Linked DNA regions of Homo sapiens: region 2 is reported to be linked to region 1. The links are microRNA targets in miRTarBase. Many come from high-throughput screens and were not tested one by one. Region 1 holds a microRNA gene; the other region holds the end of a gene's coding sequence.

The links. Region 1 holds the annotated microRNA hsa-miR-3190-5p (UCUGGCCAGCUACGUCCCCA, at 1,577-1,596, shown strand). A microRNA usually pairs through its seed, bases 2 to 8, with sites in the 3' UTR of a target mRNA and lowers its output. Matches are read on the target gene's strand: a 7mer-m8 pairs with bases 2 to 8, a 7mer-A1 pairs with bases 2 to 7 and ends in A, and an 8mer does both.
Region 2: the mRNA of CNKSR3 is a reported target of hsa-miR-3190-5p. Seed matches in the 3' UTR shown: 8mer at 3,712-3,719, 7mer-m8 at 2,297-2,303 and 7mer-m8 at 873-879.

What each region holds. Positions count from the first base shown.
Region 1 is chr19:47,225,379-47,230,378 of GRCh38, forward strand. It overlaps MIR3190 (microRNA 3190), which reads left to right and starts at 1,564; the gene lies at 1,564-1,643. It overlaps BBC3 (BCL2 binding component 3), which reads right to left. Exons shown (of 4, transcript NM_014417.5): 2 at 2,780-3,068; 3 at 1,186-1,376. The coding sequence starts at 3,053. It overlaps MIR3191 (microRNA 3191), which reads right to left and starts at 1,641; the gene lies at 1,566-1,641. RefSeq lists enhancers at 1-495, 1,704-2,646 and silencers at 569-1,128, 623-789, 1,159-1,458, 2,679-3,118, 4,979-5,000.
Region 2 is chr6:154,402,343-154,407,342 of GRCh38, forward strand. CNKSR3 (CNKSR family member 3) reads right to left here. Exons shown (of 13, transcript NM_173515.4): 13 at 1-4,310. The coding sequence ends at 4,012. Among named protein-coding and RNA genes, the nearest start is that of IPCEF1, 48 kb to the left of the region's middle.

The sequences.
Region 1 (5,000 bases):
AGATGGTCTTGCTCTGTCCCCCAGGCTGGAGTTCAGTGACCCTTCATGGCTCAGTGCAGCCTCGACTTCCTTGGCTCAAGGGACCCTTTCACCTCAGCCTCCCAAGTAGCTGAGACTACAGGCCCGCGCCACCACACCCGGCTAATTTTTGTATTTTTTGTAGCAACGGGGATCTCATTATGTGGCCCAGGCTGGTCTGGAACTCCTGGGCTCAAGCGTCCTTCTATCTCCGCCTCCCAAAGTGCTGGGATTACAGGAGTGAGCCACCGTGCCTGGCTGAACATAGATGAATGGAAGCTCTTTTGCCCATATGGTGAATCTGAAGCCTAATATTGAGGGAAAAAGGAATTCTGGGGAGAAACAAAAACTATGTCATATACGCTAAGCTAAGAATGCTCCATGATTCTAAGCCCTGGTTCTGGCCTGGTAAATACGGAGTAAAAGCAACACCTGCAGGGGTTGAGAGAGGCCAACTCGAGAGATTTCCTTTGGATGCAAGGAGGGGGAAGGGATGGGGAGAGTAAGGAGCTTCACCACATGCGTTTCTGCGGTTTTGTTTGGTTTCTTAATAAGCAAGCAATGCGGGTGTAATGTTCAAACTGAACAGAGCTGCCTGGTGGGCGCATGATGTTTGTGATTTCCCATTCTCTGCTGTGGGCTTCGAATATTTGTTTTAAAAAATCGAGGCCGTGCCAGGGGCTGGGGGGCGGGGCCTCCCGCGGGGCGGGGCTGCGAGCCCACCCCTGCGGTCCCCGGCCCGCCCCGGCGCCCGGGAAACTGTGTGGCGCTGCGGGCCGCGCGAGAGGGACGGCAGGGGGCGGGCGCGGCGCGGCTGCTGACTCACCGGCTATAAATAGCCCGGGATATATGAGCCGCGCCGCCCAGCGCCGCCCTCAGTCCCCGCGGCCGCGGGCCACGGGCGCGCAGCTCCACTCCTCGGCGGCCTAGTCCCTGGCCCTGGCCCTGGCCCTGGCTCGGGCTCCGGCTATGCCAGCCGCGGCGCGGAGTCCTTGGGCGGCTCTGCGGGCGCGCGATTCCCCCCCACCCACTTACCCCCCACCTGCCTGTCCGCGGAGCGACCCAGCCGCGCAGGGCAGCAGCTGCCGCACATCTGGCGGGGGCCGCCTGCCGCCCCCTCCTCCGGCGGAAGTCCCACCTGCCGTCTACCCCACCCCCAGCACTCACCCGCCGCTCGTACTGTGCGTTGAGGTCGTCCGCCATCCGCCGCAGCTGGGCCCCGATCTCCCGGGCCCACTGTTCCTCCTCCCCGCGGACTCCCGGGGCCGCCTGGGTGGGACCGCCCGCCAGAGCCCCCGGGGCGCTGGGCACGGGCGACTCCAGGTGCTGCTCCGCCAGCGAGAGCGAGGGCTGAGGACCTTGGAGAGGCAGAGGGGCGCGGTCAGCACCCACCACCCCTCCAGGCCTCGAGGTGTCTCGGCCTGCTCCCCTCTTTCCCAGCCACTGCTCCCCGCCTCATTTCTAGTGATCCCATCGCTAGTGAGTCAATTTCTCAGCTTCTCCTCCACAGGCACCAGAAAGCAAGAAGTACCTGGGGACGCCGCTCTGGGGTCACCTGTCTGGCCAGCTACGTCCCCACGGCCCTTGTCAGTGTGGAAGGTAGACGGCCAGAGAGGTGACCCCGGGGGTGGTCAGGCTTAACGACCTCTATTTTCCAAAGGGGCCACATTTTGCCTTTTCCATGTGACAGGCAGGGAAACTGAGGCCCGCCCTTAGGGAGTATCCCAAGGTCACACAGGGATACAGTGACTGACCCCACCCAGATCACAAGCCTCAGGTCTCCTGCCCTCTCGTGTCCAACCACAGGGAAGCCACACCTCCGGATGTGGCAGAGGCCTAGAGACCAGAAGGCCAGAGACTGTGGCAGCTTCAGAGCGCGGGCCTGGGGGGCTGGGACGCGGGAGATGCCTTCCTGCCCCCCCCCCCCCCCCACTTCTGAGCGCCCTAGGAGGCTCCTGCCCTCCCGTCCCACCAGGTCCTGGCCTGAGGGTTCCCTAAGGCCTACAGCCAGGGCCTCAGTTTCCACATCTGTGACCTTGGCCTTGAAATCGGTGTCCCCTTCCAGGGCTTCCAGGAACTGAGTTAGGGAAGTTTTCTCTTTCCTCGCTCCCCTTGGGCTGCCGGGACAAGATGGGGGATGGGAAACCAGGACACACTTTCCCTAGAGCGCCTGCCGGCAGGGATGGGGCTCCACGGGCACCACAGGGTTAACAGCCCATCAGGCAGGGGACCTTTAACCCTTCCCTCCCCAAGACTCCCCCACCTCCCCGAGGGGACTTCCCAACACAATGGCCCCTCCCCCTCTCCTTCCTCCGCCGGGACTGCTGAGGACAGCCCCTGGCCAAAGAGATGCAAATAAAAGCAAAAGGCCTCTCGACCCCTCCCCAGAGGCCAGAGTTGACAGTCCTCCCGCTCGGCCCACTCTCCCTGCAACAGGAATCCTCCAGGGGGTCTAGAGGACCCAGACTGGGGGAGGGGAGCTGGGATGCAGCTGTTGCCCCAGGCCCGGAAGAGACAGTGGGCTGCAATTCGGGGACTGCAGTCAGATTCCAGGAGGGACTTCCCACTTGACCTCCCCCTCCACCCCCAGCCTCCGTCTTCCTGCTTCTTGCAACACAAAGACCACATTGGCCACACCCTCCCAGTGGCCCGGCTGGGCCCGCCACCTCCCCCCGTCCTCTCCCACTTCTCCAGTTCCTCCGAGTCTCCAGCCCTCTCTCTTCCCGGCTCCTATCACCCCGGGGGCGGGGCGGGCACTCACCGTCCGGGCGCGGGCCTCGGGGCCGGCTGCGGGGACCCCCAGGCCAGCGGGAACCCCCCAGGGCGGCGGTGACGGCGGGTGGGGCGGTGGGGGCGCAGAGGTAGGCAGCGGGCAGCAGGGTGGGGGCGGCGGGGGCGGCAGCCAGGCCGGGCTCGCAGAGGCCGCAGGACACTGCCGAGGGCACCAGGCGGCCGAGCGGGAAGGGGCGCGGGCCGTCGCGGGCCAGGCCCTCTACGGGCTCCGGGGAGCTGCCCTCCTGGCGTGCGCGGGCCATGGCGCTCCCTGGGGCCTGCGGGACACGGGAGGAGGAGCAGGTCAGCAGGGAAGTACCAGGGCCCACTGTACCTCCAGCCTACCCGGGGTTAGGACCCAGATGGAGAAGAGTGGAGGTGTGTGTGCATGCGGAGGGGGTGACGGCCCCACAGAGACACGCCCAGCCGGGGGATGACACCACCGGGTCCTGGCTGGCCTGGAGAGCCTCCCGTGCATACGGTGATGGGCACACAGGAGGGACAGGGGGCACAGGACGGCTCTCACAGCAAGGACAGGGCTCACACAGGACGGATGGAGGGGTCTAGCAGGTGTGTGTATGAGGGCTGTGACAGTCCCACAACACAAACTCACTCCACTTGGGACTCACAGCATGGGCTGGTGGGGACAACTTTCCCAACACAGCGACGGGCACACAGGGAGGGCAGTGAGGCACAGCGAGGCCCCCACAGCACACACACAAGGACTCACACGGGACTGGCCAGCCTGACCGCCCACCCCACCTCCCACTTGCACACAAACACTGAGATGGCCCCAGTCTCGGACATCACTACTCAGTACACACAATACACACACACCCCCGACCAAAGCAGGAGCATCCAGACAGACCATCACAAGCACTCTACATACTGCGCACACTGGCTGGCACAATCCATCCCCACACATCCAAACTGTCAAAGTCTCACACACTGACCCACTGTTGATATGCCCAGGGGCACATGCAAACACAATGCAGCCTTTGCAAACACAAACACACACACACAAGCTAGGCACTGCCTCAGTTCCCAAACATGCCCCTCTCCACACACACACACTCACTCCAGAGATAAGACCTGCACACCTCTGGACTCACATATCAACACAAAACAGACACCCACGGACACACATACATCAACACCCCCAAAACACACCCACATGTCACCAACTCTCAGGACACACGTAGATCAGGCACACACAGACACATGCCATCAGACCTCAACACACCACCAGACACCAACCCACCCTCCTCACGCAACCCTCAAACATCATCACCAACTGTCAGCAACACACACACACACACACCCTACAGCTAACTCTAATCCCACACAGCCCAGCAGCACACACACCTAGCGCACCCACAGAAAACACTGGTCTCACGTGACTGACATAAACACTACACACACGCAGCCCACATGACACACATGAGCCAGCCGATCACAGTGACAAGCCCCTCAGACCCAACACACACACACACACACAGGCTCAGACACAACCCCATCCAGAGGCTGCCAGCAACACCCACCGTCTACACTGCATAGACCCCACAGATCCTGGGTCCTCAAATCCCAGACGCTGATGCCAGACACACAAGCCAAACCCAGACTGAAACAACCCCCCACCACACACATACATACACACACACACTCACACCTGACAACTCACACAGACACCTGGACAGAAAACAGACATTTGCATTTAGCAGGCGCAGCATCACAAACGCTGGGCAAAAGACACATGCCCCGGAGATACAGAGACGGCCTCAGCCAAGACAGAAACACACAGGCAAGACACAAGCACACATATCGCACGCTCGGGCAAGACACACACATAAACACACAAACAGCTCACTCCAGCAACACACACACACTACAACCTCCACACCCCAGCACACGCAGGCACCACAGACCCCCAGTATCATCCCGGAACAGCACACACAGACAACTCTCACCGACAACACACGCAGGTCCACCCACCCCACAAGCAGGGCACCCACAGACAGAACCCCACACAAACAGGCGCGGGGACTCACGCAGACACCCCGACGGGTCAGAAACCCCAACATTCCTCTGGATCGACACCACCACTCCCTGCAGAACCCAGCACAAACTCGGAGCCAGACACGCGCACACACCCAGGCGAGACACCTGCAGATCCACAACCCCGCACACGCGCGCTCCCACGGCGGTCCCAG
Region 2 (5,000 bases), not on the chromosome of region 1:
TTTACAATAACAAATCTATGATCTCATTTCATTTTATATATAAACACACAGAATTTTCAGCCCAGTTTTAATATGCTTTGGATTTTTCAAGAATGCAATGAGAGAATTCTATAAATGGAAGGAAGCCTATATACTGAGTGATTATGAGCAAGAAAGCCAGAGCCAGGCTGCTTTCATTTTAATCCCAGCTCTGCCATTATTAGCACATAACCAGGATGACTAGCACATAACCTGGGTAACTCCCTCATATGCAAAACGGGACTAACAGCAGTACTCACCTCATAGATTTATTAGAAAGGTATTAGAACAATGCCAGGCACACAGCAAGCACTATATGAGTGAAGCCATTACAGACTAGGTATGCCTAGAACTTTATCTAAAGAATTGGCCACATTTTAGAAAATCATACTGCTGACATCGACCCCTTTCCTGGTATTGAACTGCCAATGCAGCAGGTCTGAATTGGTAACTACCACATTCATGGTGATTTTTCACATATTTATATTTATACACACACATACAAAGTATGTGCCCTGCTTAGTAGTTTAATTACATCTTGTAATATAACCATGCTAGAATATGTACATATGAAAATAATTATTTCATTATAAAATATCTTATCTGTTTCAGTTAGAACGTCACTGATGGGTATGTTTTAGAGGCTAGTTATATTACCTGCTAGTTTCATTTCAGAATAGTAAATGGAGTGATGTTTTTATGAGTGAAGGTAAGCTTCATCATCCATGATTTTCATTTGAAGATTGAAAAGTGATGCTATAAAATATTATAATAGGGGTAGGTGTTGAGTTGTGTCTGGGAGAGTTTTAACAATCACTCTTGTAAAGTATCCTGTCAAGGAGTTCAAGATCAGCCTGGCCAACATGGTGAAACTCCATCTCTACTAAAAATACAAAAATTAGCCAGGTGTGGTGGCGGGCACCTGTAATCCCAGCTACTTGGGAGGCTGAGGCAGGAGAATTGCCTGAACCTGGGAGGCAGAGGCTGCAGTGAGTTGAGATTGTACCACTGCACTCTAGCCTGGGTGACAGAGTGAGAATCTGTCTCAGAAAAAAAAAAAAATTTTTTTTAAAGAAATAAAAATAAAGAATCCTGTCAAAAAGCATCATCAAGCAACTTCATATGTGAACACACGTCCACAATTAAACCTGGATTACTACTGAGGCAAGCAGTTTCCATTAATTTCTAAGAAATCCATATTAAACTATTATTTATGTATGTCCATAGTAGAGGTTTACAAAGGTTTTTTTTTTTTAGCAGCAATATATTTTTCAAACACAATTCAGGAGAAAACCTCAAATAAAAAGAAAGATGAAGCTGTGGAGGGTGACTGCAAGTAGAGGAGCCAGGAACTTCTCTCGCGGGTCCTGGGACTCCAGGGAACAAAGGCTGAAAAGCACCAATCTGGTTGGCCACTGCCTATAATGAAGACTGACTGCCGAATATTCACTTAAAGGATGGCTGTTCAATTCACAAGTGGCATTTTCCCCACAGAAAAAGAGCTCACCAGCCAGCTAAGGCCTCCAGAGTGATTTAACTCATCATCCAGTGGAACTACAGCTCTTAGAGTTCTCCCCACAATCTGGGGAGTAAGAGGAGATGTTGCCACCCACTTCCTGGGCATAAAGCCAGCTCAAGACAAGAGTAAAACAGGCAGGGCTGGCTCGCCCCTCGTACACAGCTCCCTCCTCATCACCAGTGCCCTACACGAGACCTCCCCAGCCCACACCCCACCCTCCTAGTGTGTTGAACACCCTGTGGTCACACACTGCAAGCCTCTTCTCTCCATCTGCCAAACACCCTTGGGTCTCCATGTCTCCATGAAATACCAGATCTTTTTCTTTTTGTTTTTTTTTTGAGACAGAGTCTCCTTCTGTCACCCAGGCTGGAGTGCAGTGGCCTGATCTTGGCTCACTACAACCTCCGCCTCCAGGGTTCAAGTGATTCTCCTGCCTCAGCCTCCCGAGTAGCTGGGACTACAGGTGCCCACCACCATGCGAAGCTGATTTTTAGTAGAGACAGGGTTTCACCATGTTGGCCAGGCTGGTCTTGAACTCCTGACCCCAGGTAATCCACCCACCTTGGCCCCCCAAAGTTCTGGAATTACAGGCATGAGCCACTGCGCCAGGCCGAAATACCAGATCTTCATGGCAGTTGTCTTAGAGGTAGAGAAGAAAACAGCCAGACTGAGCCGGGTGTGGTGGCTCATGCCTGTAATCCCAGCACTTTGGGAGGCTGAGGCCGGCAGATCAGTTGAGGTTGGGAGTTTGAGACCAGCCTGGCCAACGTAGTGAAACCCCGTCTCCACTAAAAATACAAAAATTAGCCAGGCATGGTGGCGGGCACCTATAATCCCAGCTACATGGGAGGCTGAGGCAGGAGAATCGCTTGAACCTGGAAGGTGGAGGTTGCAGTGAGCTGAGATTGCGCCACTGCACTCCAGCCTGGGTGACAGATTGAGACTCCATCTCAAAAACAAACAAACAAACAAAAAAAACCAGCCTGACTGAATTCAGTCACAGTAATTATACATGAGTGGTTGCTAGTTCCTTTAACCACACCAGAAGCATTTTAAAGGGAAGATGTTTCCTAACTCCAGTGATTTTCATGGGCTGAATTCCAGGCAGTTCAGCAAACTCAACAATTCCGGTGGTATGAGAAAGGGCATTTTGGAGTAGGAGATTTCGGCTCTGCCTAGGAAGATACCTCAGAAAATTCCCCTCGTGCAATTTCACTTTGCATATGCTTCTCCTGTTCTTCCATTTCTAATCCATAAAATCCCAAAATGCTTGGGAGGGTTTATTTTGATTTTTTTTAACAATACTGCCCTGCTGGCAACAGCCACGATAGTCACTTGCTCATCTGAAAATGCCTTGCACTTTCTTTTTCACTAGCTTCGTGTATGACGCAAAACAGAAATATTTCAATTACAGGTGACTAAGAGTAAGAAAAATATACAACTATATTTAAAATACTTAAATTAACAAGATAGTACTTTTCCATTCTAACAAAATATCATACATTCAGTTTAAACAAGAGTTAATATCCAGACACACGTTTTCAAAATACCTGATGCTAGTTGAAAATTAGTGACCATGAGGCTTTCCAAGATATTTCTAATTAGCAAACTGTGTACAATTTTGAAGAAGTGTACACACCGTGCTGGAAGACAGACACTGAACAGGTCAAAATGCAAACTCATGTATCTTTCATCAACCTAAATCTTGTTGCTTCACTTTTCTAAATGATACTTTGGCTGTCAGCGAATCTTATAGCTTCTTTTCCCTTAAAGACAATAATATATAACAACACCACCCCACACAAATAACCATAAACTTCTTTGTGTGAAATAAGCCCTATCAAAATGTGTTCATGTATTTCTGTACCAACTGATCTATACTGAGACTGTCATGAAAAAGGTATCAAACAAGTGTAACAGGCCTACACTTAAACCTCTGCCTCAAAGGAGAAATCAGATACTTGCCACGTTATTGCAAAGTCAAAGCTGCTACACTTAAAATATGGTAGATAGTTTAGAAAAATCAAATCAAAAATGTTTTCTCACTGGCTTTTTCAGATAAAGAAGTTGGACCACAAACCAACACATCTGTGTGAAAACAGCCACCAATTTGAGTCCCCCCAGCCCCTCAAAAAGGAACAATGCCACCAGTCCCTCACAATGACCATAACGTCTCTGGCCAGGACTGCGATTTCTAGCGCGTGTCTTCACATTCTATCTCTGGGGAAGCAAGACAAACAGGCTCTACCCATTTCCCTCCTTTTGTCTCCACAAGCCAGCACCTAAGATCCTCTGAATTTGTTCCCATCCAATCCTGCAAACTTCCAAGAAGGGCAGTAGATAACTTTTCAAAAGAAAAAGAAATTGCATAAGGTCCCTACATAATACTGAGGCTGAAACGAGAAGAGGCTGTCCACTGTAAAAGCAAGGCACTTGGGGCAGGAGCCAGGCAGGTGGCCTGAGCAGGGTCCCTCTCAGTGAGTCAACAGTTTGAGGCGCGTAAACCAGCTGACCAGGAGGGACGGTTCTGTGGACGAGGACTTCGTAGCTGAGGAGCCAGATTTCTTTTTGGTCCCTTCCTCCTGGAATGGAATCGTGGCGCTGCTGTGGAGATCTGAGTTGATGTAGCACCTGCTTCCTCGGATGTAGTCCGCACCCCGGACCAGATGCCGCTCGGTCGTGGGTCTGGAGAACCGGTATGGGGGAGAGGAGCTCTCTTCAATGATCGGAGGAATCCGCTCGTTACTGAAATACCGGCAAAGGGCATCCTCCCCTGTTTCCAGACAAAGTCCATTAAGTCACAATCCCAGCCGGGCGTGGTGGCTCACACCTGTAATCTCCGCACTTTGGGAGGTCGAGGTGGGTGGATCACGAGGTCAAGAGATCTAGACCATCCTGGCCAACATGGTGAAACCCCGTCTCTACTGAAAATACAAAAATTAGCTGGCGTGGTGGCGGGCGCCTGTAGTCCCAGCTACTCAGAGAAACGTTTGAACCCGAGAGGCGGAGGTTGCAGTGAGCCAAGATCGCGCCACTGCACTCCAGGCTGTTGACAGAGCGAGACTCTGTCCCCTCCAGGAAAAAAAAAAAAAAATCACAATCCCCTACACAGTGCTCTTTGGAGGGCCCTCGGCCTGCCCAGACTTCTGCCACCACCCTGAATGTGGGCACCATACCTTTACTGCTCTCCTCCCTGGATTGGCCACAAGGTCCCACCTGTGGCTGGGCCCACCAATGGGTGCTCTGGAAGCAGAAATGGGAAGGGTCCCTCATACTTTAGGCTGCTTTAGCGCCTGAGAGGTAGCACACGGGTCTCCTTTAGTGGGTGGGGACCATAGAGTGTAGTGTCCCCGCGATGGCTGAACAGAACTGTTTATGCATTGTTTAATGCAGGGCATTCAAGCTGGGCATTCAGGAACATTCCCGAACAAGGAAAAGAGTGATCCTGCCCTAACTGCCAGCA